Linked DNA regions of Homo sapiens. The protein of the gene in region 1 interacts with the protein of each later gene in a biochemical or structural test. Each region holds a gene or a part of one and is shown on either strand. Other genes may lie near its edges.

Evidence for each region.
Region 2: the proteins of PLEKHA1 (region 1) and GRIP2 interact in a test that uses a peptide from one of them, tested with the Homo sapiens proteins (one large-scale study listed by IntAct).
Region 3: the proteins of PLEKHA1 (region 1) and MAST1 interact in a test that uses a peptide from one of them, tested with the Homo sapiens proteins (one large-scale study listed by IntAct).
Region 4: the proteins of PLEKHA1 (region 1) and HTRA3 interact in a test that uses a peptide from one of them, tested with the Homo sapiens proteins (one large-scale study listed by IntAct).
Region 5: the proteins of PLEKHA1 (region 1) and CARD11 interact in a test that uses a peptide from one of them, tested with the Homo sapiens proteins (one large-scale study listed by IntAct).
Region 6: the proteins of PLEKHA1 (region 1) and RHPN1 interact in a test that uses a peptide from one of them, tested with the Homo sapiens proteins (one large-scale study listed by IntAct).
Region 7: the proteins of PLEKHA1 (region 1) and SNTA1 interact in a test that uses a peptide from one of them, tested with the Homo sapiens proteins (one large-scale study listed by IntAct).

Annotation. Positions count from the first base shown.
Region 1 is NC_000010.11:122,426,708-122,429,776, forward strand, and holds part of PLEKHA1 (pleckstrin homology domain-containing family A member 1), read left to right. Parts: intron 1-234; coding exon 235-324; intron 325-1,374; coding exon of another isoform or gene 1,375-1,439; intron 1,440-1,550; coding exon of another isoform or gene 1,551-1,673; exon of another isoform or gene 1,674-1,713; intron 1,714-2,916; coding exon 2,917-3,069. UniProt on the Homo sapiens protein: Binds specifically to phosphatidylinositol 3,4-diphosphate (PtdIns3,4P2), but not to other phosphoinositides. May recruit other proteins to the plasma membrane.
Region 2 is NC_000003.12:14,491,975-14,495,342, reverse strand, and holds part of GRIP2 (glutamate receptor-interacting protein 2), read left to right. Parts: intron 1-353; coding exon 354-500; intron 501-1,516; coding exon 1,517-1,678; 3' UTR 1,679-3,368.
Region 3 is NC_000019.10:12,866,015-12,869,514, forward strand, and holds part of MAST1 (microtubule-associated serine/threonine-protein kinase 1), read left to right. Parts: coding exon 1-88; intron 89-638; coding exon 639-748; intron 749-1,459; coding exon 1,460-1,638; intron 1,639-1,715; coding exon 1,716-1,963; intron 1,964-2,628; coding exon 2,629-2,835; intron 2,836-3,051; coding exon 3,052-3,281; intron 3,282-3,500. UniProt on the Homo sapiens protein: Microtubule-associated protein essential for correct brain development. Appears to link the dystrophin/utrophin network with microtubule filaments via the syntrophins. Phosphorylation of DMD or UTRN may modulate their affinities for associated proteins.
Region 4 is NC_000004.12:8,283,254-8,286,753, forward strand, and holds part of HTRA3 (serine protease HTRA3 isoform 1 precursor), read left to right. Parts: intron 1-3,307; coding exon 3,308-3,500. UniProt on the Homo sapiens protein: Serine protease that cleaves beta-casein/CSN2 as well as several extracellular matrix (ECM) proteoglycans such as decorin/DCN, biglycan/BGN and fibronectin/FN1.
Region 5 is NC_000007.14:2,907,868-2,911,367, reverse strand, and holds part of CARD11 (caspase recruitment domain-containing protein 11), read left to right. Parts: intron 1-1,202; coding exon 1,203-1,318; intron 1,319-3,500. UniProt on the Homo sapiens protein: Adapter protein that plays a key role in adaptive immune response by transducing the activation of NF-kappa-B downstream of T-cell receptor (TCR) and B-cell receptor (BCR) engagement.
Region 6 is NC_000008.11:143,378,876-143,381,798, forward strand, and holds part of RHPN1 (rhophilin-1), read left to right. Parts: intron 1-36; coding exon 37-203; intron 204-439; coding exon 440-633; intron 634-953; coding exon 954-1,110; intron 1,111-1,186; coding exon 1,187-1,300; coding exon of another isoform or gene 1,301-1,456; exon of another isoform or gene 1,457-1,713; coding exon 1,714-1,908; intron 1,909-2,392; coding exon 2,393-2,469; intron 2,470-2,696; coding exon 2,697-2,843; intron 2,844-2,923. UniProt on the Homo sapiens protein: Has no enzymatic activity. May serve as a target for Rho, and interact with some cytoskeletal component upon Rho binding or relay a Rho signal to other molecules.
Region 7 is NC_000020.11:33,412,764-33,416,263, reverse strand, and holds part of SNTA1 (alpha-1-syntrophin), read left to right. Parts: intron 1-1,629; exon of another isoform or gene 1,630-3,481; coding exon 3,482-3,500. UniProt on the Homo sapiens protein: Adapter protein that binds to and probably organizes the subcellular localization of a variety of membrane proteins. May link various receptors to the actin cytoskeleton and the extracellular matrix via the dystrophin glycoprotein complex.

The DNA.
Region 1 (3,069 bases):
ACGCCTGTTGATGGGTCTGATCTTGACATTGAAGTGCTCAATTTATGTCTCTGTGTAGTTAAGACCTAGCAAAACCTGGCTTTAAAAAAATGATTTCTAAATTTTTTGGAAACAGTTGCCTTAGAGTGATTTTGTTGATGACAGTATTTTAAGTTATCAAAATAAATACATTGGCTGTATAGAAGTAGGTGATTTTGAGAAAAAATTGTTTGAATGAGTTCTTTTTTCCTTTAGGCTGATAGCCCTGAAGAGATGCACAGTTGGATTAAAGCAGTCTCTGGCGCCATTGTAGCACAGCGGGGTCCCGGCAGATCTGCGTCTTCTGTAGGTTTCCTGCTCTCTGGGGTGATACTCCCTTGCGTCTCCCCCATCCTATCAAATTTCCTCTCTCCCAATCCATCCGGTTTCTTTCTTTCTTGAGATTTATTTGCATGTTGACTTTTATACCAATTGGACTTGCAAAAAATAATGCATTTCTAATTTAATGCTTCCTTGTAGTATTATGTATACATAACTTTCTGTGCATTGTATTGTGTTAAATGCACAAGTAGGGCAACTAAAGAATAAACATTTCCTTGCTTTGTTTTAGGAGTTCTTACTTGTCAGTAGCTCTAGATTTGGCATAATCTGACAGATTCTTAGTATGGTGTGTGATCAGGATCATGTAAGACTTTTAGTTGTAGCGTTACACAGTTTTGTGAACGTCTCAATTTCCTCTTTACTTCCTCTGATTTCAGTTCAGGTTTTTTGGTTTTGTTTTGTTTTTTACCTTTGGCTTAACCATGCCATCAGATCACTGAGCAGCTGGGGCCTTAAATACAGTTCAGTGCTCCCAGTGTTTCCATTTCATGTTTTAATTCTCATTTTAAAACCTGCTTTAACAGCCTGCTTCTGAAAACTACCATAATTATCTTTGTGGTAGTATGATAATAAAATTGAAATACAACTAAACATTCTGCTCAGAAATATTTTTTTAAAAGATTTTTCTTGTGTTCAAGTACATAAGAATTAGATTTGCATTTGGAATACTTTGGCCACTGATCTCAGGTCTGAAAATTTAAAGTATCTTAAAATGTAACACTGCCATCTGCGGAAAGTAGTCTCATATGTAGCATGATAGCCTTTATTATCTAGATTTACTATGACATATATGCTAGTTACTTACACTTTTAATATTTTTTTCTGATAGTATTATAATACCGCCTTTTATTAGTTTTCTGGTAGTGATAACTACAGATAAATAAATAGAAATCAATGTTTCTGATTTCTTAGTTGTTAAGTCATTCTCTCTTTATATCCTTTTTGAAATATCTAAGAAGTCACTTTCATAGATGTTCATTTTGTAACTGCCTGTATTTTATGTGACTTTTTCAGCAGTCAAGTATGAGACTCTCTGCAAAAACAGTGTCTGTTGGGAAGAGGAAAAGTTGGAGAAGGATGTTTGTGTTTTGTGCTTTGTGGTGGGGGCAGATTGGACTATCTAGCTATGACTGTCAGCACAACTTTCTCTTTTCCTCCCTCTACCCAGTATAGGTTAACTCTAATCTTAGCTTTGCACTGTGTTCCAGATGCGGCAGGCCAGAAGGCTGTCGAACCCTTGTATACAGAGGTATACATCAAGAGCTGGTGAATGCAGCACGTATGTGGGCTCTCACGCAAACGTGCCTTCTTAGTGGAGGGCCCAGACTTACTACTTACAACTGATCATAGAAAGTTGAGTTAACCAAACTGCCTTTTGCAGTTATCATAACTGATTTTGTCAATACTAACGCAAACTGTTTCACTGTAGTCATCAGGTTGGATATGTGTATTTAAAAATAAAAAATAAAACATACAACTTTACTAACAGAAAGAGACATTAACATATAAAAATTAATATACTCAACTGCTGCAAGAGTTTCAATTTTATATTATGTATTTAAAAATTTTTAAGATACAATACTTACGAAATGCACCATTGTTCTAATAATATATGCAAACTAATGCATGCATATGCATTGGATAAACTGTACATTACTATAGTTTGCATGGCATTTAAAAATCTCTGAAATTTAGCCATCTAATAGGACTCTGTAGTGTTTTGGTAATTTGTAGCACTTTGATTTCAAAGCCACTGGTATCATAAATGAATATAATATACTAGTATATAGCAATGTATTTAGAATGGTCATATTTAAGGATATTTTCAGATTTGATCTAGTTAGAAGCATATTGAAATTAACATTCTCAACTACTAATTATTTCACCACAGTTTAAAATGTGATAAATGTGTACCCTTTGTTACCTTTAAAATATTAAGCCATATGAATATATGACCTATTCAGAACTAAAATTAAGTAAAAAATGAAAAGACTGTGCTATTATTGGTTGCAGTGAAATTCAGGGAAGTAAAAACTAAGTCTTATCAGCAGAATAATGTTTGAAAGATGATTCGTGCTTATTAAAGAAATATGGCCTTTCATTGTTATAGTCTATATTTTAATTTTTTTCATTCTAAAATATGTGGGATAATTCCTAGTGTTGACTGAGAATATACTCTTAAATAAAATGATACAGCTGGGAGGTTCTCTTTTAAACACAGTTCAGTTGCAGCTGGAACACTGTATTTCAGTTTAGGTTGGCTGAATCTTCAAAGTGTCATAGGCTGCCAAATTCAGCTTTGGTGACGGAACTGGTTTCCTAGTGGAAATGGTTTTTGGCTATCATTGCTTTAAACTCACCTCTAAAAACGCGTTGCTTTGGGAAAGAACTTGCACATTTATGCTGCATGGCTTCTGCTGCTGCCTTTGTGTGTGTGTGTGTGTGTGTGTGTGTGTGTGTGTGTTTTATTTGTTTTTCAGAGAATCAAGTCTCACACTGAGTTACTAACCTGGTCATGAGTGACTGACCGTGTCTGACTGCCACTCCTTTTTGCAGGAGCATCCCCCCGGTCCTTCAGAATCCAAACACGCTTTCCGTCCTACCAACGCAGCCACCGCCACCTCACATTCCACAGCCTCTCGCAGCAACTCTTTGGTCTCAACCTTTACCATGGAGAAGCGAGGATTTTACGAGTCTCTTGCCAAGGTC
Region 2 (3,368 bases), on another chromosome or scaffold:
CTGAGCAGCTCTTTGGTAAATGGGAATGAGTGACGGTCAGGGGAGGTAACAGTGCCCTGGCCAGGCCTCCTCCCTGATAGAGCCAGAGGACAGAGAAAGGGCTGAAAGGAAGTCACTCCTAAGGGCTCCGTCGTACTTGAGTGTTGTGGCCTGGAGCATCTGCTGAGGGAGGTTGGCAGGGAGCGGGGTGGCGGGGGTGGCTGAAGGCCCAGGGGCAAGAGGCTGGGGTGCTGCAGCCTGGGGGGTGTGGCTGGCCAGAGGCGCTGAATGCCAGACCAAAGGACCTGGGCTACTGTGAGAGGCTGGGGGCAAAGGTCAGAGTTCCAGGAACCTCCTCCTCCTTCTGCTTCCAGGTGACCCTGCACAAGGACCCCATGCGGCATGACTTTGGTTTCAGCGTCTCAGATGGCCTCCTGGAAAAAGGTGTCTATGTCCACACTGTGCGCCCTGATGGGCCAGCCCACCGTGGAGGCCTCCAGCCCTTCGACAGGGTCCTGCAGGTAATGCTGGGGCAGGGGCTCCATAGTGGGGGTGGCATTGTTTCCTAGCCTGAGGGTGGGGAAAGAGCCTGCATCTATCGCCTGTGAAGAGGGCAGGACAATGCAAGTCTGAGTCAGGTTAGCCAAAGTTGCATTGCGGGCCCCAGCACCCTCAGCCTCAGAGGCTGAGCACACACAGACCTTTCTTCTTACACCCCATGCCCATTGTGGGCTGGTGGGGGCCTTCTTGTCCCGGGCTGATGGAGCATCCGCCCATCTTGGAATTGACCCTCTGAGACACGTGGCCTCCTCAGACTCCACAGCAGAGGAGACAGACTGGAAAGTCACACGTGGATTTTTTCCGCCTTCACCCAGAAGCAACACTCATCACCTTGCTTCACAGCCGATGGACCAAACCCCTCATGTGACCTTCCTAACTAACTGTGAGGGAGCCTGGGAAGCGTGGGACATCGTGTACTGGGCACTCCGTGCCGCCCCTTCTCATGCCCTGGCTATTTTTGCTCCCTCAGTGTGTTTTTTGCCATATTTATATGAAATTTACTCAATTCATGTTTTCTCTAAATTGATGGCACTTTTTCAATTTACATTTGACTTTGAAAGGAAACTTTTTGTCTCCATTAGGAGTGAAAATCTTGCACCCCTTGCTTTGAAATAGAAAGTGGGTGTAAAATGCAAATAAAATAGAAAGAAGACAATGTCACATCACACAGTTCTAGGCAGGAGGCTCTCTGAGTGTGTGGTCTGCTCTTTCATGTGAGAAAGGGAGAAAAGCAAGAGTTAGAGGGGTATGAAAGGTATACCTGCCCCTTCCTAGAACTTTCTCTTTGATGAAACCTAACAGAAGGACTGAGAGAGAGTTAGAGGAAGAATGTTCCTCTGTGTGTGGTGCTGGTGATGTCAGGGCTTGCGTCAAGGCTGGGGCAGGACCCATCTTTAGGACATCACATGCCTCTTGCTCCCTTCAGCGCAGCAGGGCTGACATCTCGGTTCTGTTCCCTTGCTTGTGCCCCATGCAGGTCAACCACGTCCGTACACGGGACTTCGACTGCTGCCTGGCGGTGCCACTCCTGGCCGAGGCGGGTGATGTCTTGGAGCTGATCATCAGCCGCAAGCCGCACACGGCACACAGCAGCCGGGCCCCCCGATCGCCAGGCCCCAGCAGTCCCCGGATGCTCTGAAGTCAGCATGTGGGCCGAACTCCTAAGGGGCCACCCAGGCAGATCCTGGCTCCCAGACACGTAGCTGGGCTGGAGAAGCGGCCACCCACTCATTCATCTGTTGGTCTGGCAGACTCTGAGCCTGGGATGATGCTTGGTCTCTGTTCCCCAGGTCTGTGGTGACTGGGGTGCCAGGCAGGGAGGTCCTGCCCTAGTTGGAGTGACAGCTGGGGTCTCTCGCCAAGTTGGGTCTCCAAGATGCCCAGAGGAGCCTCCCTTAAGAAGGGTTGGCACAGGCTGCTCAGCCGAGAGGAGAGAGGCCTGGGGGCTGTCCCAGGTCTCTGTGGGGCCTCCTTGGAGAGGTCGAAGATGTAGGGAGCACTTCCTCCCAGCAAAGCCATGGAGCTGGAATGAGCTGCAAGGAGGAGTGAGTTCTCGGTCACAGGAGGTGAGCAGGCAGGAGCTGGATACCCCAGCGCAGTCATGCATTGGGGTATGAGGCATTCCCATGATGCGTGCACACGCGCTTGGGGGTTGGCTTCCTGATGGGGAGCCACTTCATCTAGAGACTCGGCCACCAGGAAGGATGCTGCTTCGGATGGGAGCCCAGCTCCTTCGCTTCTCCAGAATAGGGGTTTGGGGCTTGCTAGTCCTGAGATTCTGAGATTCCCAGAATCTGGTCCCCACTTATGAGACTCTTAAGTTGGGGCGTCTGGGATCCCAGGAAGTGCTGGCCCTTTGATTCTGAAAGTGGGTGATTCTTTGATTTCAGCATCTCAGTCTGAAGCTTCTGGGACTTGAGACTGTGGTTCTGGGCCCATTGGGCAGGCTCTATGGGCCTTGGGCTCTCAGCCCTCCTGCTTCTTCTGTAGGCCGTGTGGCCACTGACCCATCTGCACGTCCGCTCAGCCCAAGCCCCTCCATGTGGGAGGGGTCATTTTGGGGCAAAAGACCCTGGAGCTTCCATTCACCTGCCATCCAGTGAAAATTGAAAAGCGATGGACGCAGGACCTGTGAGGCGGTAGCGCTCCTCTTTACAGCCAGATCAGTGGAGGAAGAGGAGAAAGAGGGAGGGAGATGGGAGAGAAATGGGCCAGAGAAAAAGATGGGACACTCTTGCCCAGTGGAGGGTGTCCAAAGTGCTTATTCAAAGAAGTCTATTCCCACTTGAAATCTGGAAGCACCAGCATCCCTTAAAATCATTGTCCTCAGTGTCCACAAATCAGAGACCCTCTTCATTTTGAGAAGGGTGTGGGCCTCCCCTGGTGGTCTAGTGAGTGGTGCCTGGGATGGAGTGGGCGGGCAGGTGTAGCCAGGGCTGGGGATGTGCTTTGCCTGGCCCAGTTCTCACAGGGGTCTCAGGAAAACGGGGCACCCACTCCCACCTCCATCTGTCTCCAACCTGGGGTCCCTGGAGGCCAGAAAAGTGCTCTTCCATTTGAGGGAACAGATGAGGAGTCAAGAGGTCTGTTCTTTTCACCCTGGGTCTGTTACCTGTTTGCTGTGTGACCCTGTCTGGGTTGGACCCCCAGCCCCTCTGGACGATCACGGGTGGACAGTCTGAGCAGACACAGGCCTCCTGGTCAGGGCCGGAACCATCTCTGCCGACCCACCAAGGCCCCCTTGGGGACCTGCCCACGCTGTCTCCTGGAGGCCTGCCTCCCTTACCCCTCCCCTCCACTTCGCTGGGCTCTGCCCCTTGGTGCCCTCC
Region 3 (3,500 bases), on another chromosome or scaffold:
CGAGACCTGGACTGGACAGGGCTGCTGAGGCAGAAGGCCGAGTTCATCCCCCACCTAGAGTCGGAAGATGACACTAGCTACTTTGACAGTGAGCTGGGACACCAGGCACGACCTGGGTCGAGGGGTGGGATCCGGGAAGAGGGACCCTGGGGTAAGTAAAGCCTGGGATAGGGCCTGGCTAAGTACCAAGATGTGATGCCTAGGTGCGAAGGTGGTATTTTGGTGGGGGCGGGGCCAAGTGGGGCGGGGCTGACATACAGGCGGGGCTCAGGCTGAAATGTAGGTAAGAACCTGAGATTGGGCTAGGTGTGGGGCCTGGCCTGGGTGAGTTGTGAGTGTGGGCCTGGAACTGAACTAGAGAGAGGTACTAGCGCTCAGAATGGCCTGGGGTGATGCCAGGGTGCAGAGCACTGTAGGTGGAGCGTGGCCTCTTTGGAGGCGGGGCTAGACGGTGCCACTGAGAATGGGGCAAGGACCTTGCCTGGGAGCGGAGCCTAAATTAAATACACTAATGAGGCAGGGGCGTGGCCTGACCTGAAGACTTGTAAACCCGTCTTGAACCAGGACTGGGCTCCTGTGGGGATGTGATATGAGGAGGAACCCCGTACCCTCAGTCACAGCCCATACCCGCTCCCCAGCCCGCTCAGACAGGTATCACCACGTGAACTCCTATGACGAGGATGACACGACGGAGGAGGAGCCCGTGGAAATCCGCCAGTTCTCTTCCTGCTCTCCGCGCTTCAGCAAGGTGGGCCAAGTCTGGGTGTGGGACAGGGCGAGACCCCAGGAGGGATGGGGCTTGGAGAGACAGTGAGAAACAGGTTCCCTGGTGCCCAAGGTCTCAGGAGCGGGAAGTTATTGATGGGGCGGGAGTCTGGAAGGTGGTAAGGCCACGCAAGAGGCAGGTTCGGGAGTCTATGGGACGGGCCTTTGGCACTGAGTGGAATCTAACAGGAATCAGGACAGTTGTGCAGATTGAGGCCATGGTGGGGCGGGGCTAGGTGTGGGTGGGGCGGGGTCAGGACGTGGGAATGAGGCCAGCAGCGAAGGCGGAGTAAAGCCCAGCGAAGTCTTGCTTTTATTTATTTATTTTTATTTTTTCTAATAACGGGCAGAGAAGCCATAGGCCTTGCTTTGAGAAGCAACTTGTAGAGGCGTGCAGGGCCTAGCCTGGGCTAAGGAGACATAAATTAAGGGGGTTGCTGGGAAGATGGGGCTGTGTAGAGAGCAGATTGGTCAGGGCATCGTCGGGGCAGAGCCTAGAATAAAACGCAGTGCCTAACTTTGTGGTGTGGGGCCTGAACTGAAGAATTGTAGGTTGGGGGATCATGCACAATTGGGCGGAGCCAGGCCTCGGAGGGTGGAGTGCGTTTTGCGGGGGATCCACTGCCAGGAAGCTGATTAGCTCCGGAGTGAAAGTGGAACCCGGGCTGGACTTGCCTCCCACCACCACCTACAGGTGTATAGCAGCATGGAGCAGCTGTCGCAGCACGAGCCCAAGACCCCAGTAGCAGCTGCAGGGAGCAGCAAGCGGGAGCCGAGCACCAAGGGCCCCGAGGAGAAGGTGGCCGGCAAGCGGGAGGGGCTGGGCGGCCTGACCCTGCGTGAGAAGACCTGGAGAGGGGGCTCTCCGGAGATGTGAGCAGGGGAATGGCGGAGTTTGGGGGCGGGGTCGAAGGGGGCGTGTCTTCCATAACCACGCCCCCTCCATGCAGCAAGCGATTCTCCGCGTCCGAGGCCAGTTTCCTGGAGGGAGAGGCCAGTCCCCCTTTGGGCGCCCGCCGCCGTTTCTCGGCGCTGCTGGAGCCCAGCCGCTTCAGCGCCCCCCAAGAGGACGAGGATGAGGCCCGGCTGCGCAGGCCTCCCCGGCCCAGCTCCGACCCCGCGGGATCCCTGGATGCACGGGCCCCCAAAGAGGAGACTCAAGGGGAAGGCACCTCCAGCGCCGGGGACTCCGAGGCCAGTGAGTGCCCTATCGTGCTGCCTTCCCCAATCTTCCCCAATGTCCTACTGGTCATATAGTGAGCATCCCACGAGCCTGGTGCTGTTTATGAAAGATCTCAGGTCCTATTCACATTGCAATTTGGGATTTTTTTTTTTTTTTTTTTTTTTGAGACAGAGTCTCACTCCATCACCCAGGATGGAGTGCAGTGGCGTGATCTCGGCTCACTGCAACCTCCACCTCCCAAGTTCAAGTGGTTCTCGCACCTCAGCCTCCCGAGTAGCTGGGATTACAGGCGCGCGCCACTACCCCCGGCTAATTTTTGTATTTTTAGTAGAGACAGGGTTTCTTCATGTTGGCAAGGCTGGTCTCGAACTCCTGACCTCAAGTGATCTGCCTTCCTTGGCCTACCAAAGTGCTGGGGTTACAGTCGTGAGCCACCACACCCAGCCCAATTTGGGATTCTTAACATTAGAAACACCCCAATACCATGGTCAGTCAGTGATACAGACCGATACAGACTATGTCTCTATATGAGGAGCAGTGAGGCATGCAGGTTACCTGCTCAGATGAAACTCACCATCCATCAAGGGTAAAAAGTGGAAAGAGCATTCCAGGCAGGGAAACAGTATGTGGGAAATCCCTGGCCTTGGACTAATTCCTAACACACTTGCTTTCTGTTGCAGCTGACCGTCCACGCCCAGGTGACCTCTGCCCACCCTCGAAGGATGGGGATGCATCAGGCCCAAGGGCTACCAATGACTTGGTTCTGCGCCGGGCGCGGCACCAGCAGATGTCAGGGGATGTGGCAGTAGAGAAGAGGCCTTCTCGAACTGGGGGCAAAGTCATCAAATCAGCCTCAGCCACTGCCTTATCTGTCATGATTCCTGCAGGTAATGCTGGGCCCCACCTGGCAGGGGAGGGGCTGCCCCCCATTTGAGGCAGGACAGACCAATGAAAATGCTGCATTTTCCCTGTCCACCGTGATTGGCTCCAGGCTGGACCAATGAGAGGCTGCTCTGCCACTGCCTTGGGAGGAGGGAGGAGCAGATACAGGGAGATGTCTATCTTCTTGGTTCTGATTTCTGACCATGGTTGTGTGTCTGTAGTGGACCCACATGGAAGTTCACCCCTTGCTAGTCCCATGTCTCCACGATCTCTGTCCTCCAACCCATCCTCACGGGACTCCTCACCCAGCCGGGACTACTCACCAGCTGTCAGTGGGCTCCGCTCCCCCATCACCATCCAGCGCTCGGGCAAGAAGTATGGCTTCACACTGCGTGCCATCCGTGTCTACATGGGTGACACGGATGTCTATAGTGTCCACCACATTGTCTGGGTGAGTACTCATGGGTGGAGTCTCCATCACAGAGTGGAGGGTGGTGGGGAAAAGGCCCCTCCAGCTCAAACCAGTTAGCCTGGGTGAGACACCTCTGTGACCCTCTATGCCTCTTCCCTCTCTAAACCTGTTTCTTTTTTCTTTTACTTTTTTATTTTAGGCGGAGACTCACTGTGTCGCCAGGCCGGAGTGCAGTGGCAGGATCTCGGCTCACTGCAA
Region 4 (3,500 bases), on another chromosome or scaffold:
ATGTCCCAGCCCCGTAGAGGAAGTGGTGTGTACCGTGTGGCTTCACCCCCGAGCAAGGCCTCTCCTTGCAGATGCACAGGCAAAGCCTCCTCCCCTTCTTCCCACAGGGCCTGCCCCGGTCCCTGCCACCATCCCCAGCCTCTCCTACTTCCCCCATCACAGAGACCCTCTGAGCTGGTTTGGGGGAGCCCTGCCTTCAGAACCTCCCGCTGTGCAAGCTGCCCAATGTCTGATCGCTCACACCGAATCCTGAGGGCTCATCCCAGATTGACTTATATCCCGCAGAAGCAGACTGAATGACTCTTCTGAAGTTTAGAGTGTTTCTCCCATCCACCTTTGCTGGCCCTTTGGTCCCTGGGTGTGCACAGAGCCGGCAAACAGCCTGATGAGGAGGCCCCGGAACCAAGCCTCATTCCACCCTGATAGGGATCAGACGGCGGGTCCAGGCGGACACGGAGCCGGCAATGAGCAGTCACCAGAGGCCGCAGGCCAGGGCTCCAGGGACTTGCTTGTTTTCACGGTACTTTCCCTGAGGCCTCCAGCCTCCCTGTGACGAGGCTCCACTGCCCTAGGCCCGGCCCTGGGGACTGAGCATCTGGTGGCTCATGGGGAGATCCCAGGAGTGATTCCTGCTCCAGCACCGCCTCCCTGCTGGCTGGCTCGGCGCTTGTCTGGTCCAAGCCCCTGTCACTAGGCGTCACGGCCCCTCTGCCCTCCCCATCCCGGGCTCTCCAGCAGAGGTCGTGCTCCTTGAACAGGGGTGTGAGAGCGCGTGACGGGCATATAGCACCTCAGCATCACATCCTCCACACCTGCTGGGAGCTCCCTGGGCTGTGGGCTGTGTAGCCCATGTTTCTCAAAACAGCCCTGGAGGCACCACCCATGCAGGACCCACAGCCCTGGTTGCCACCCTGTCCGGTGCCCCGTGCTGATGGACCTCTCACTGCCCCCTTGGCAGCACACTGACCCCTCACTGCCCTTCCCTCGAGCCCCGGGCCCTGAGACATGTCATTGAGGAAATTATAACTGGATGCACTAAGTGGCACGTTGCTGGCCTTCCAGGAGGTAGGGATGGGGGCAGCATCTTTCTGGAAGGCCCCAGCCACCAGGCTCTGAACCAACTAATTACTGACTCCAGCCCGGCTGGGAGGCCGTTTCTGCCCTCAGAGCCTCCAGTGACTGATGCTCTGAGTGGGTGGGTGAGACCCAGCAAAGATGAGACAGATGCTTTTCCAGCACAGGCCTCCCGGCTGTGACCCCTGACCTGAGGTCTGAGTGTGGGCATGGAGGCCAGTGGGCAGCCGCGGGCATTTTCTGCAGACCCCGCAGGTGCCTGGCCCTGTGAGGCACCCTGGGGCTTCCGCAGGCAAAACAGGTGCAGTTCCTACTCTGGGGCACACACGGAGTGGGTGTGGCAGAAGCTGGCTGCGGATGTGAGTGGACAGATGCTGGGGTCACCGTGTGGGGTGGCCAAGTGGCCAGATGCCCAGGCTGCCTGGGGCAGACCCCTGCTTTGCCCTTTGCCTGCCCGCCTGACCTAGGCAAGTAGTTCAGCGTCTCGGGACTCAGTTTTCCCACCATAAAGACCTGAGAGTTAGGGACGACAGTAGTTTCTTGTGGCTGCCATAACAAAGTACCACAGACTGCATGGCTTAAAATGACAGAGATGTTTGCTCCCATGGTTCTGGAGGCTGGAAGTCCTAATCAAGGTGTCAAGGTCCTAATCAAGCAGGGCTGCTTTCTTCTGGGGGATGTTGGGGGAGTGTCCCAGGCCCCTCTACTGGCTCTAGTGTTTTCCGCAGTCCTTGGTACGCCTCGGCCCTTAGACCCCTCTCTCTGCTCTGTCTCCATCATCTCATGGCCTTCCCCTCTGTGAGACTGGACTTCCCTCCCTTAAAGACAACACAGACACACTCTGATGTCACCGTAACTTCAGGACACCTGCAAAGACCCTGTTTCCAAATAAAGTCACATTCACAGTCACATGGGGTTAGGACTTGGCCGTATCTCTTGGCAGGGATACAGCTCACCACAGCACCCCCCTTGCAGGGTGCCCATGAGCATTCAATGGCCTGCCTGCCTCAGAGGGAGCACAGGGTGGCATTCGCTGCCATCTCTGGTCCTGTGGGTCACAGCGAAGCTCCTGTACTTTGCAGAGACTGTCACCTCCCTGCACGTGCCAGACGCTCCCATCCCTCCATGCTTTGTCTCTTGCTCTCACCTGCCTGCACGTGCCAGACGTTTCCATCCCTCCATACTTTGTCCCTCGCACATTTTCCTTGCTCATCTCTACTAAGCAGCCTCAGGGAGTGAGTACCTGCTCTGGGCTGGGCCCCACGCTGGGGTCCCGAAGGTTCCCACCCTGGAGAAGGTCCCAGGCTGTGTCTGGCATTCAGCCTCCTCCCCTGCTGGATGTGGGGCTGTGGTTTCTACTCAGAGAGCTCTGGTGAGAACTGGGGATTGTTGCCCATCGGCAGACACCAATGCAAACCCAGGCCAGCTCCACACCGTTCACAGAGGGCAGGGCCCAGGCTGGCCTCATCTGTGCCTCTGCACCCCTGCCCTCGGGGTGTCCAGGGCTCGGGTCCTGCATCTGCCTGCTGCCAGCACTGCCACATTTGGGGCTTTAGGCAGCTAGCCTGGGGGTGAGGGTAGAGGGAGGTGGGAATAAGCCTTCTCAGCCCTCCCAGCACTCACCCTGTCGGGATGATCAGGAATCTGCCCCAGCCTCTGGGGAGCCTCCCTTCCTGGGTACCTGCTGCAGCCCTGCAGGATGCTGTGTGTGCAATGGGGCTTTTCCCCTAGGGCCAATTATTGTCCTGTTTGTTGAGAGGCGTTTTAGAGCCCAGGCATCACCACTCGGCGGAGGAGGTGTTGTTGTCCCATTTCCCAAATGGGGAGACCAAGGCTCAGAGAGCTTCACTGACCTGCCCACGGTCAGGCAGATAATAAGTGGGTCCTGGACTTGGGATTAGCATCCTGGTCTGTCTGGCTCCGTGCTCCGTAGTCAGGATGGCGAGTGCAAGCTGGGAGTCATCTGACATGTCGCAGGCAGCCTGTCTCATCTCAGCAAATTGCAGCGAGAGGTGATCATCATCACCTCTTTATGGCTGTGAATGGGTGCAGGCGCCGGTGACTTGGCCAGGTCACAGGGCCAGGATTCAAATGGGAGCTTGAGGGACTCCAGACCTGTGTTCTGTCAGCCACACACTGGCTCTGCTCCTCGCTGACCAGCCCCACCACTGCGCCTGACTCCCCCGCGTCCTAGCCCCACCCTAAATGCCCGCCTGTGTCTCCCTGGCTGCAGACACCCGCTGTTTGGCCGCAACGTGCCCCTGTCCAGCGGTTCTGGCTTCATCATGTCAGAGGCCGGCCTGATCATCACCAATGCCCACGTGGTGTCCAGCAACAGTGCTGCCCCGGGCAGGCAGCAGCTCAAGGTGCAGCTACAGAATGGGGACTCCTATGAGGCCACCATCAAAGACATCGACAAGAAGTCG
Region 5 (3,500 bases), on another chromosome or scaffold:
CAAGGAGACCCTGGGCGAGGGGGGTCATTCCCACCTCCAGACACGAGTGCTAGACTGCGTTCAGTTTGTGAAATTCACTGAGCTGCATGCTTAGAATGCTGTGTTTATGTTCTATTCCAATGCAAAGTTTGATGTTTTATTTATTTAGAGACTGGGGCTCGCTCTGTTGCCCAGCCTGGAGTGCAGGGCATGATCCCGGCTTACTGCAGCCGCGACTTCTAGGCTGAAGCAACTCTCCCGCCTCTGCCTCCCGAGTAGCTGGGACTACAGTTACTCACCACCATGCCCAGCTAATGATTTTCTAATTTTTTTAGAGATAGGGTCTTGTTATATTGCCCAGGCTGGTCTCGAACTCCTAGCGTCAAGCAATCCTCCCACCTCCCAAAGTGCTGGGATTGCTGGCATGAGCCACCATGCCAACATTTGGTGGAATTTTTTTTTAAGTGATGCCTTCAGCAAAGCAGAAATTGCCCTTTCTCAAAATGATGAGCTCATGGTTGAGAACCTTGCAGATACTCCTGGGACCTGCCAGCCTCGCCGCCTCACCCTTCATGTGTTCCCTACCCTCTTACTTGAAGGCTGGCTAGGGTAGCAGGTGTTTTGGGGTGTGTGTGTGTGTGCGTGTGTGTGTATGTGTGTGTGTGTGTGTTTGAGACAGTGTCTCACTCTGTCACCCAGGCTGGAATGCAGTGGCACCATCTCGGCTCACCGCAACCTCCACCTCCCGGGTTCAAGTGATTCTCCTGCCTCAGCCTCCCGAGTAGCTGGGATTACAGGCGTGGGCCACCGCACCCAGCTAATTTTTATACTTTTAGTAGAGACAGGGTTTTGCCGTGTTGGCCAGGCTGGTCTCGAACTCCTGACCCCAAGTGATCGGCCCGCCTGGGCCTCCCAAAGTGCTGGGATTACAGGCGTGAGCCACCACGCCCGGCTGGTAGCAGGTGTTTCATTCAAACTCATTCACGCCACCTGGTTCACCCCGTCCGGGGCCTCATCTCTGCCCATGAACATCACTGTGGTCAGCAGAGTCCTGGAGTGTCCAGACTCATGTGGGGGTCTCATCTCCTGGATCAGCGGCAGGTGGCTTTCAGGGCTCCCGCCCCGCTATAGACCCCAACCCTGCATCCAGGCCCCGCTGCAGGCACCTTCACAGGAGCGGGAGGTGGGTGGGCTGCTGCTGACCAAAGCCGCTGTGCCCGCAGAACAAGCACTGCCTGCTGGAGGCTGGGATCGGCTGCACAAGAGACTTGATCAAGTCCAACATCTACCCCATCGTGCTCTTCATCCGGGTGTGTGAGAAGAACATCAAGAGGTTCAGGTAGGGCTCCCAGACCCCTAAGGGCTGTCCCCTCCTGTCCCTAGCACCCCACCAAGCCTCCATGGATCGCAGGAGGCCTGTGTGCCCCCACCTCATGCACCCCTTTTGTAAACCCTCACCAAGTACGGGACTGACCTTGCAGAGCTGATGCCAAGGACAGCGGCCGAGATGGTGACTCACATATGGGGCGCATCCCAGGGGACAAGAGCTGGGAGGGACGGGGCGGAGTGCCCATCACCCAGGGTGGTCCGGGAAGGCCTGGGGTATCCATCAGCGAGACCCATGGCAGTGAGGGGGGCCTAGGAGATGAGAAAGAAGACGCAATCTGGGCAGCAGGGGAACAGCTGGTGCTCAGACCCTGAGACAGATGTTTGGGCGGAATGGTGAGGGACGGAGGGGTGAGGGGCGGAGTGGTGAGGGACAGAGGGGTGAGAGGCTGAGGAGTGAGGGGCGGAGGGTGAGGGACGGAGAGTGAGAGGCTGAGGGGTGAGGGGCGCAGGGGTGAGAGGCAGAGGGTGAGGGGTGGAGGGGTGAGGGGCGCAGGGGTGAGGGGCGGAGGGGTGAGAGGCTGGGGAGTGAGGGGCAGAGGGTGAGGGACAGAGGGGTGAGAGGCTGAGGAGTGAGGGGCGGAGGGTGAGGGACGGAGAGTGAGAGGCTGAGGGGTGAGGGGCAGCGGGTCCAGGCCATGCAGGGCCACGGGAGGCTGCGACATCTTGTTCTGGGTGCATCTGGAGGCCACTGAAGGTGGCATGGTCCACTTTAGGGTATAAACGCACCTCTCACCTCTGGACACGGGCAGGGTGGCGGTGTGGGCCGGGCTTCTGTCTGAGAGGCGATGAGAGGCAGTCTGACTCCGAATCCGTGTTCAGGGTCGAGCCTGCAGGATTCGGGAAAGGGTTCACTCTGGGGTTCCAGAGAACCAGAGGCTGGGCGCGGTGGCTCACGCCTATAATCCCCACACTTTGGGAGGCCAAGGTGGGCACATCAGCTGAAGTTGGTAGTTTGAGACCAGCTTGGCCAACATGGTGAAACCCCATCTCTACTAAAAATACAAAAAAAATTAGCTGGGCGTGGTGGCGGGCACCTGTAGTCCCAGCTACTCAGGAGGCAGAAGCAGGAGAATCGCTTGAACGTGGGAGGGGCAGGTTGCAGTGAGCTGAGATCGAGCCACTGCACTCCAGCCTGGGCGACAGAGTGAGACTCCATCTCAGAAAAAAAAAAACAAAAAAAAAAAAACGAAAGGACGGCGCTGAGGTTTGGGGCCTGGGTGATGAGGACAGACTGGCCCTTAAGTGGCTTCATCTCGGATCCCCGCCCCTCCTCGCACGCACCTGCAAAATAAATGTCCTGCCACCATTTTGCAGAGGGAATCACAGACTGAGAGTTTAGGCCCATTCATTCCTTTTCACCAGATACTCACTGAGCCATTGTGAAGGGTTAGGCTCTGGGGAACGCAGCAGTGAGCAAAAGAGACGGGCATCCCCCTCGATACCTCACACCCGTTAGGCTGGCCAGGACCAAAAGGACAGAAACTGACAAGTGTTGACGAGGAGGGTAGACGTCGGAACCCGGTGCACAGCTGCTGGAAATGCAAAAGAGAGCGGCCACTGTGGAGGACAGCATGGCGATGCCCCCAAAAATTAAAAATAGAATACTATATAATCCAGCAACCCCACCTGCGGGCATATCCCCAAGAGAATTGAGAGCAGGGTCTGTAAGAGACATATACACGCCCGTGTTCACAGCAGCGTTACTCCCAATAGCCAAAACGTAGACGTCACCTAAGGGTCGGTCTGTGGGGAGTGAATACACACAATAGGGCCCATCCATACAGGCTAGGAAGGTGGCAAGAGCTGAAAACCTTGCAAACTGTTAACAAAAAAAGAGTTGAAACAAAGAAACAATAATACATTTAATGCATGAGAAATACTAGCATGGTACATACCCCCTTCCCTGATCTGTCCTGCCTGGGAATGTGTTTATGGTGCAGTGTGTATCACAACAAAAATACTGTATGGAGTATTTTTTTTTTTTTGAGACGGAGTCTCACTCTGTCACCCAGGCTGAAGTGCAGTGGCACGATCTCGGCTCACTGCAGCCTCCACCTCCCAGGTTCAAGAGATTCTCCTACCTCAGCCTCCCGAGTAGCTGGGATTACAGGTGCCCACCACCATGCCTGGCT
Region 6 (2,923 bases), on another chromosome or scaffold:
CGTGGGAACTCCACCCAGCCTGACCCAACACTGCAGGTACGACTCGCTTACTGGGGTCCCGGCCCAGCAGCGTGCCCTGGCCTTCGAGAAGGGCAGCGTTCTCTTCAACATCGGTGCCCTCCACACGCAGATTGGGGCGCGCCAGGACCGCTCCTGCACCGAGGGTGCCCGCCGCGCTATGGAGGCCTTCCAGAGGGCCGCTGGTGAGGGCGGCCCGGGCCGCGGTGGGGCACGGCGCGGTGCCAGGGTGTTGCAGAGCCCCTTTTGCAGGGCAGGAGCTGGGGAGTGGTTAGGACATCAGTCCCTCAGGTAGGGGGAGTGAGCACATCAGGTCCATATGTGTCCCAGGAGCATCCCTAGCTGGCCGCCCTGAGTGCTGCATGGGGCAGAGATGGGCAGGTACAGGGCCCTGCCTGTGTGAGCACCCCTCCCTCCGCAGGGGCCTTCAGCCTCCTGAGGGAGAACTTCTCCCATGCGCCGAGCCCAGACATGAGCGCTGCGTCCCTCTGCGCACTGGAGCAGCTCATGATGGCCCAGGCCCAGGAATGTGTGTTTGAGGGCCTCTCACCACCTGCCTCCATGGCCCCCCAAGACTGCCTGGCCCAGCTGCGCCTGGCGCAGGAGGCCGCCCAGGTGAGCTCGGGCACCCGTGTCAGGATGCAGGGGGTGGGGCCGAGCTGGGGTCAGAGCCCAGGTCCAGGCATGCGTGAGCTCTCCCACCTCCTTCCTTGTGTGTCAGCCCCGAGCCAGCTGTTGTCCTGCTCCCTGGGGGGGCTGGTCAGGAACCTGGGGACCCGAGCCTCTGCCTCCAGGGGATGGCACAAAGCAGCAGGAACTGAGGTGCCAGGGAGGCTGCTGGGATGGTGGTCGGAGCAGGTGGAGGCTGGGTAGGGAGAAGCAGGCACCACCTGGAGAGTGGGAGGCCCTCGCGTGCCTGCCACATCCACCGGCAGGTGGCAGCCGAGTACAGGCTAGTGCACCGGACCATGGCCCAGCCACCCGTCCACGACTACGTGCCTGTCTCCTGGACTGCCCTGGTGCATGTCAAGGCCGAGTACTTCCGCTCCCTGGCCCACTACCACGTAGCCATGGCCCTCTGCGACGGCTCCCGTGAGTGCCCACCACACTTGCCCATGGTACTGCCAAGGCCCCCCCGCGCAGGGCTCACAGCCTCTCTGTCCCCCAGCAGCGACCGAGGGAGAGCTCCCCACGCACGAGCAGGTCTTCCTGCAGCCCCCCACCTCCTCTAAGCCCCGAGGCCCTGTGCTGCCGCAGGAGCTGGAGGAGCGCAGGCAGCTTGGTAAGGCGCCCATGGGTGGAGTGCCCTGGGGCTCAGATGGTCACCAACGGTGGCAGGGTGTCCCCCACCACCCTCATGCTGTTTGCCACCTGCTGTCCCCGTGCTGACGAGTTGGGCCACCTACCTATCCCTGGATGGCCTGTGCCTGATGGGTGACGGCCCAGCGCAGGGGCCCCAGGAGTGCTGGGCAGCCTCTGAGCAGGTGGGAGACCACTGGGAGCAGCTCATCCCTGGCCCCTGCTTTGCACGTGGCAGAGCCCTCCTGCACAGCCAGCTCCTCACCCCCGTGGCGCGCACCCCCAACGAAAGTGGCTGTGATGAGCCCCACAGCCCTGGCGTTGCCCACTCCTTCTGCCACGTCCCAGGGCCCACGGGCCCACATGGTGTGTGACATCCCAGTGCCCCGCGTGCAGGCAAGGCACACCTGAAGCGTGCCATCCTGGGGCAGGAGGAGGCGCTGCGGCTGCACGCCCTGTGCCGCGTCCTGCGCGAGGTGGACCTGCTTCGGGCTGTGATCTCCCAGACGCTGCAGCGCTCACTGGCCAAGTATGCGGAGCTCGACCGTGAGGATGACTTCTGTGAGGCTGCCGAGGCCCCGGACATCCAGCGTGAGCAGCCAGGGCCTGTCTGGGTGGCTGCATCCCTGGCCAGGGTGGGGGCCTTCGTCCTGGAGAAAGGGAGGCTGATTGCATTAAAGATGCAGTCACCACGATGAATTAAACAGCAGTAGCACTTTCCAGGCCACGATCACAGGGACCCACAGAGCTGCTGGGCCCTTCAGGGGCCTGGGGGATGACCACGCTCCTCAGCACCTCCCTCCCTGCACTGGCCTCCTACCCTGAGGGGAAGCCCACAGACCCAGGACAGGCATGGCTGGGACTTCAGGGAGGGATTTTGGGAGCCACTTGGGGCAGAGGGGGCCGTGTGTTCAGGGCACACCTGGGGCAGCTCCTCCCACCATTGCAGAGTGGCCAGGCCTGGAGGTCAGAAGCGGGGCCTGTGTGCACTCAGGGTCATGCCCTGCGCCCTGGAAAATCCCCGAGGCAGGTCTCCACAGTCTCCCAGCTTAGCTCTGCTCTTACACCCTCTCAGCTAAGACCCACCAGAAGCCAGAGGCCAGGATGCCACGCCTGTCCCAGGGGAAGGGGCCTGACATCTTCCATCGGCTGGTGAGCACACCCGTCCCCAGGCACCGCCCAGCATGGGCAGCTTGGGCTGTGTGGCTCTGACCAGCACATGGCCTCAGACAGGCCATTGATGGTGGTCCAGCCCTCCCCACCCACCTTGTGGAACCCCACGGTGTCCCTCGGTGCACAGGTTGGATGGATGTGCTAGTCAGGCGGGGTCTCCTCAGTGTGTGGCCCAGCTGGGCCTCTGACCTCTGAGCCCCTGCCAGGGGCCCCTGTCTGTGTTCTCAGCCAAGAACCGGTGGCGGCTGGTGGGGCCCGTCCACCTGACCCGAGGAGAGGGCGGCTTTGGCCTCACGCTTCGGGGAGACTCGCCTGTCCTCATCGCTGCCGTCATTCCAGGGAGCCAGGCCGCGGTAAGGGCCCCGCCGGCCCCCTGAGGCTGAGTCCTTGGTGCCAGCCAGGGTGTCCTGTCCCCACCTCACCGTCCAAGTCT
Region 7 (3,500 bases), on another chromosome or scaffold:
TGCCCAACATTGGCTGGGAGGGCTGGTTAACGTCCAGCATCCAAATCTCTTGGTCTCACTCGATGCCACACCTCTTGCCTGCCCCCATGAGGCAAAAACTGGTGATTCACAGGTCACTTGCCGATGCTCTAAAAAAGAGCCTTTGTTTTTGTTTTTGAGACGGAGTATCGCTCTGTTGCCCAGGCTGGAGTGCAGTGGTGTAATCTTGGCTCACTGCGGTCCCCTTCTCCCGGGTTCAAGCGATTCTCCTGCCTCAGACTTCTGAGTAGCTGGGATTACAGGCACCTGCCAACATGCCCAGCTAATTTTGTATTTTTATTAGAGATGGGGTTTCACCATGTTGGTCAGGCTGGTTTGGAACTCCTGACCTCAGGTGATCCGCCCACCTTGGCCTCCTGAAGTGCTAGGATTACAGGCATGAGCCATCGCCTGTATTTTTAATAGACTAATTTTTGTATTTTTTTTTTTTTTGGGACAGAGTCTTCTCTGTTGCCAGGCTGGATGGAGTGCAGTGGTACAATCTCAGCTCACTGCAACCTCCGCCTCCTAGGTTCAGGCAATTCTCCTGCCTCAGCCTCCTGAGTAGCTGGGACTACAGGTGCACGCCGCCATGCCTGACTAATTTTTTTTTTTTTTGTATTTTAGCAGAGACGGGGGTTCACCATGTTGCCCAGGCTGGTCTTGAACTCTTGAGCTCAGGCATTCTGCCTGCCTCGGCCTCCCAAAGTGCTAGGATTACAGGCATGAGCCACCGCGCCCGGCTGTATTTTTACTAGAGACAGGGTTTCACCACATTGGCCAGGCTGATCTCAAACTCCTGACCTCAAGATCCACCCACCTTGGGCTCCCAAAGTGCTGGGATTACAGGGGTGAGCCACCATGCCCGGCCCGGAAGGGCCTTCTGTGAGTGTGAAGGTGAAGTAGTATTAGTCCTTCTAGAGACTCATAGAACCTTAGATTCCCAGCCTGATCCCAGACATTACCTGAAACGTGTGTATATGTTTCTAAGTGTGCGCACGTGTAGATGACATGTAAATGCAAGTGCTTGTATGTATATATGAGAGCATTTGCATGTATGAGTATAGATTTGTACATGTGTGTTTGTTTATATGTTATTTGTATGTGTATGCACATATGTGTGTGCATGTGTGTTTTAACATGTACATGCCTGAGTACCTACATAGGTAACCTCAATATAACTGGGGTTCCATATGGCCCACTGTCAGTGCAGTATCCCAGTCATAGGGATACAGCCTGGCAACCAAAATATAATGAAAACTGCTTCAAACTTTTACTCAGTGTTAGGATTGCACTGGGCTGCAAGTACAGAAACTCCAACAAGCAATGACTTAAATAAAAGGGGTTAATTTTCCCACATGTTTAAAAAGAAGTCCAGGGGTCAGCTATTCAGGCTGCTGTAGATGCTCAAGGATGCCATCAAGGAACTAGGCTTCTAGCTTCCTGCTCTACCATTTTAATTATGGGCGGTTTTCTTCTTCGTGGAGGCAGGATGGTGGCTGCATCCCAAGAATTGTGTTCATATTCCAGGCAGAAATAAGACAAAAGCCAAAGAGTCTTTTCTGCTAGTATTTTGGCTATCTGTTGCTGTATCACAAACCAACCCTAAAATTTAGTGGTTTAGAAAACAATAATTTATTATTTCTTTTTGAGATGGGGGATCTCGCTCTGTCACCCAGGCTGGAGTGCAGTGGTGTGATCTCAGCTCACTGCAACCTCTGCTTCCCAGGTTCAAGTGATTCTGGTGCCTCAGCCTCCCAAGTAGCTGGGACCACAGGTGCCCGCCATGACGTCTGGCTAATTTTTTGTGTTTTTAGAGGAGATGGGGTTTTGCCCTGTTGGCTAGGTTGGTTTTGAACTCCTGGCCTCAAGTGATCTGCCCGGCTCAGCTTCCCAAAGTGCTGGGATTACAGGTGTGAGCCACCATGCCTGGCCTCAAGCCTCTTTAGTTTTGTTGTTGTTTTGTTTTTCTGTTTTTTTTTTTTTTTTTTTTTTTTTTTGGTTTTTGAGACGGAGTTTCGCTTTTGTTGCCCAGGCTGGAGTGCAATGGCACGATCTCAGCTCACTACAACCTCCACTTTCTGGGTTCAAGCGATTCTCCTGCCTCAGCCTCCCTAGTAGCTGGGATTACAGGCATGTGCCACCACACCCAGCTAATTTTGTATTTTTAGTAGAGATGGGGTTTCTCCATGTTGATCAGGCTGGTCTTGAACTCCCTACCTCAGGTGATCCACCCGCTTTGGCTTCCCAAAGTGCTGGGATTACAGGCGTGAGCCATCACACCCTGTCTGTTTTTCTGTTTTTTTAAGATGAGGTCTTGTGCTGTCATCTAGGCTGGAGTGCACTGGCACCCTTATAGCTTACTGCAGCCTCAAACTCCTGGGCTCAAGTGGTTCTCCTGCCTCAGCCTCTAAGTAGCTGGGACTATAGGCACGTGTCACCATGCCTGGCTAATTAAAAAAAAAATTTTTTTTTCTTTTTTAGAGATGAGTGTCTCACTTTGTTGTCCAGGCTGGTCTCGAACTCCTGGGCTCAAGCCATCGTCCTGGCTCAGTCTCCCGAAGTTCTGGGATTACAGGCGTGAGCCACCATGTCCAGCTTAGTTTTTTTTTTTTTTTTCCCCTGCTCTTATTAGTGAATTAGTTTGGTTCTGTGCAACAAGGAGAACCTGGGAGCTGGCCCAGAAGAGGATGTTCCTTAGAAACCAGGAGAAAGGGGCAAGATTAGGAATAGCCACACAGCAATAATTTAGGCCCTATTACACCATCATGCATGTTTCAGTGTGTGTGTATATTTGTGTGTATCTGCATACGTGTAGGCTGGGCACGGTGGCTCATGCCTGTAATCCCAGCACTTTGGAGGGCGAAGGCGGGGTGATCATTTGAGGTCAGGAGTTCGAGACCAGCCTGGCCAACTTGGTGAAACCCCATCTCTACTAAAAATAAAAAAATAAGGCCAGGCATGGTGGCTCATGCCTGTAATCCCAGCACTTTGGGAGGCTGAGGCAGGCGGATCACGGGGTCAGGAGATCGAGACCATCCTGGCCAACATGGTGAAACCCCATCTCTATTAAAAATACAAAAATTATATGGGTGTGGTGGCGTGTGCCTGTAATCCCAGCTACTTGGGAGGCTGAGGCAGGAGAATCACTTGAACCTGGGAGGCAGAGGTTGGGCCATTGCAGTGCAGCCTGGGTGACAGAGCGAGGCTCTGTTTCAAAAACAACAACAAAAACCCCACAAAATATATGAACACGTGTGTATATGTCACACTCGCTTGTTCCTATGCCCCATGAAGCCCCAGCAACTGTGGCTGGAGCCCAGCAGTGAGGGTTGCTCCTGATTCTCTCACGGACATCCCCCTGGTTTCTCCTGGTTTGGTGGTGGGTGGGGTTTCTTGGGCCAGGGTTGGGCAGCTGCAGCCTAATGGTCAGGTCCTTGTCTCCACCCATTTGTGCCTGCAGGTATCTGGAGATCTGCTCG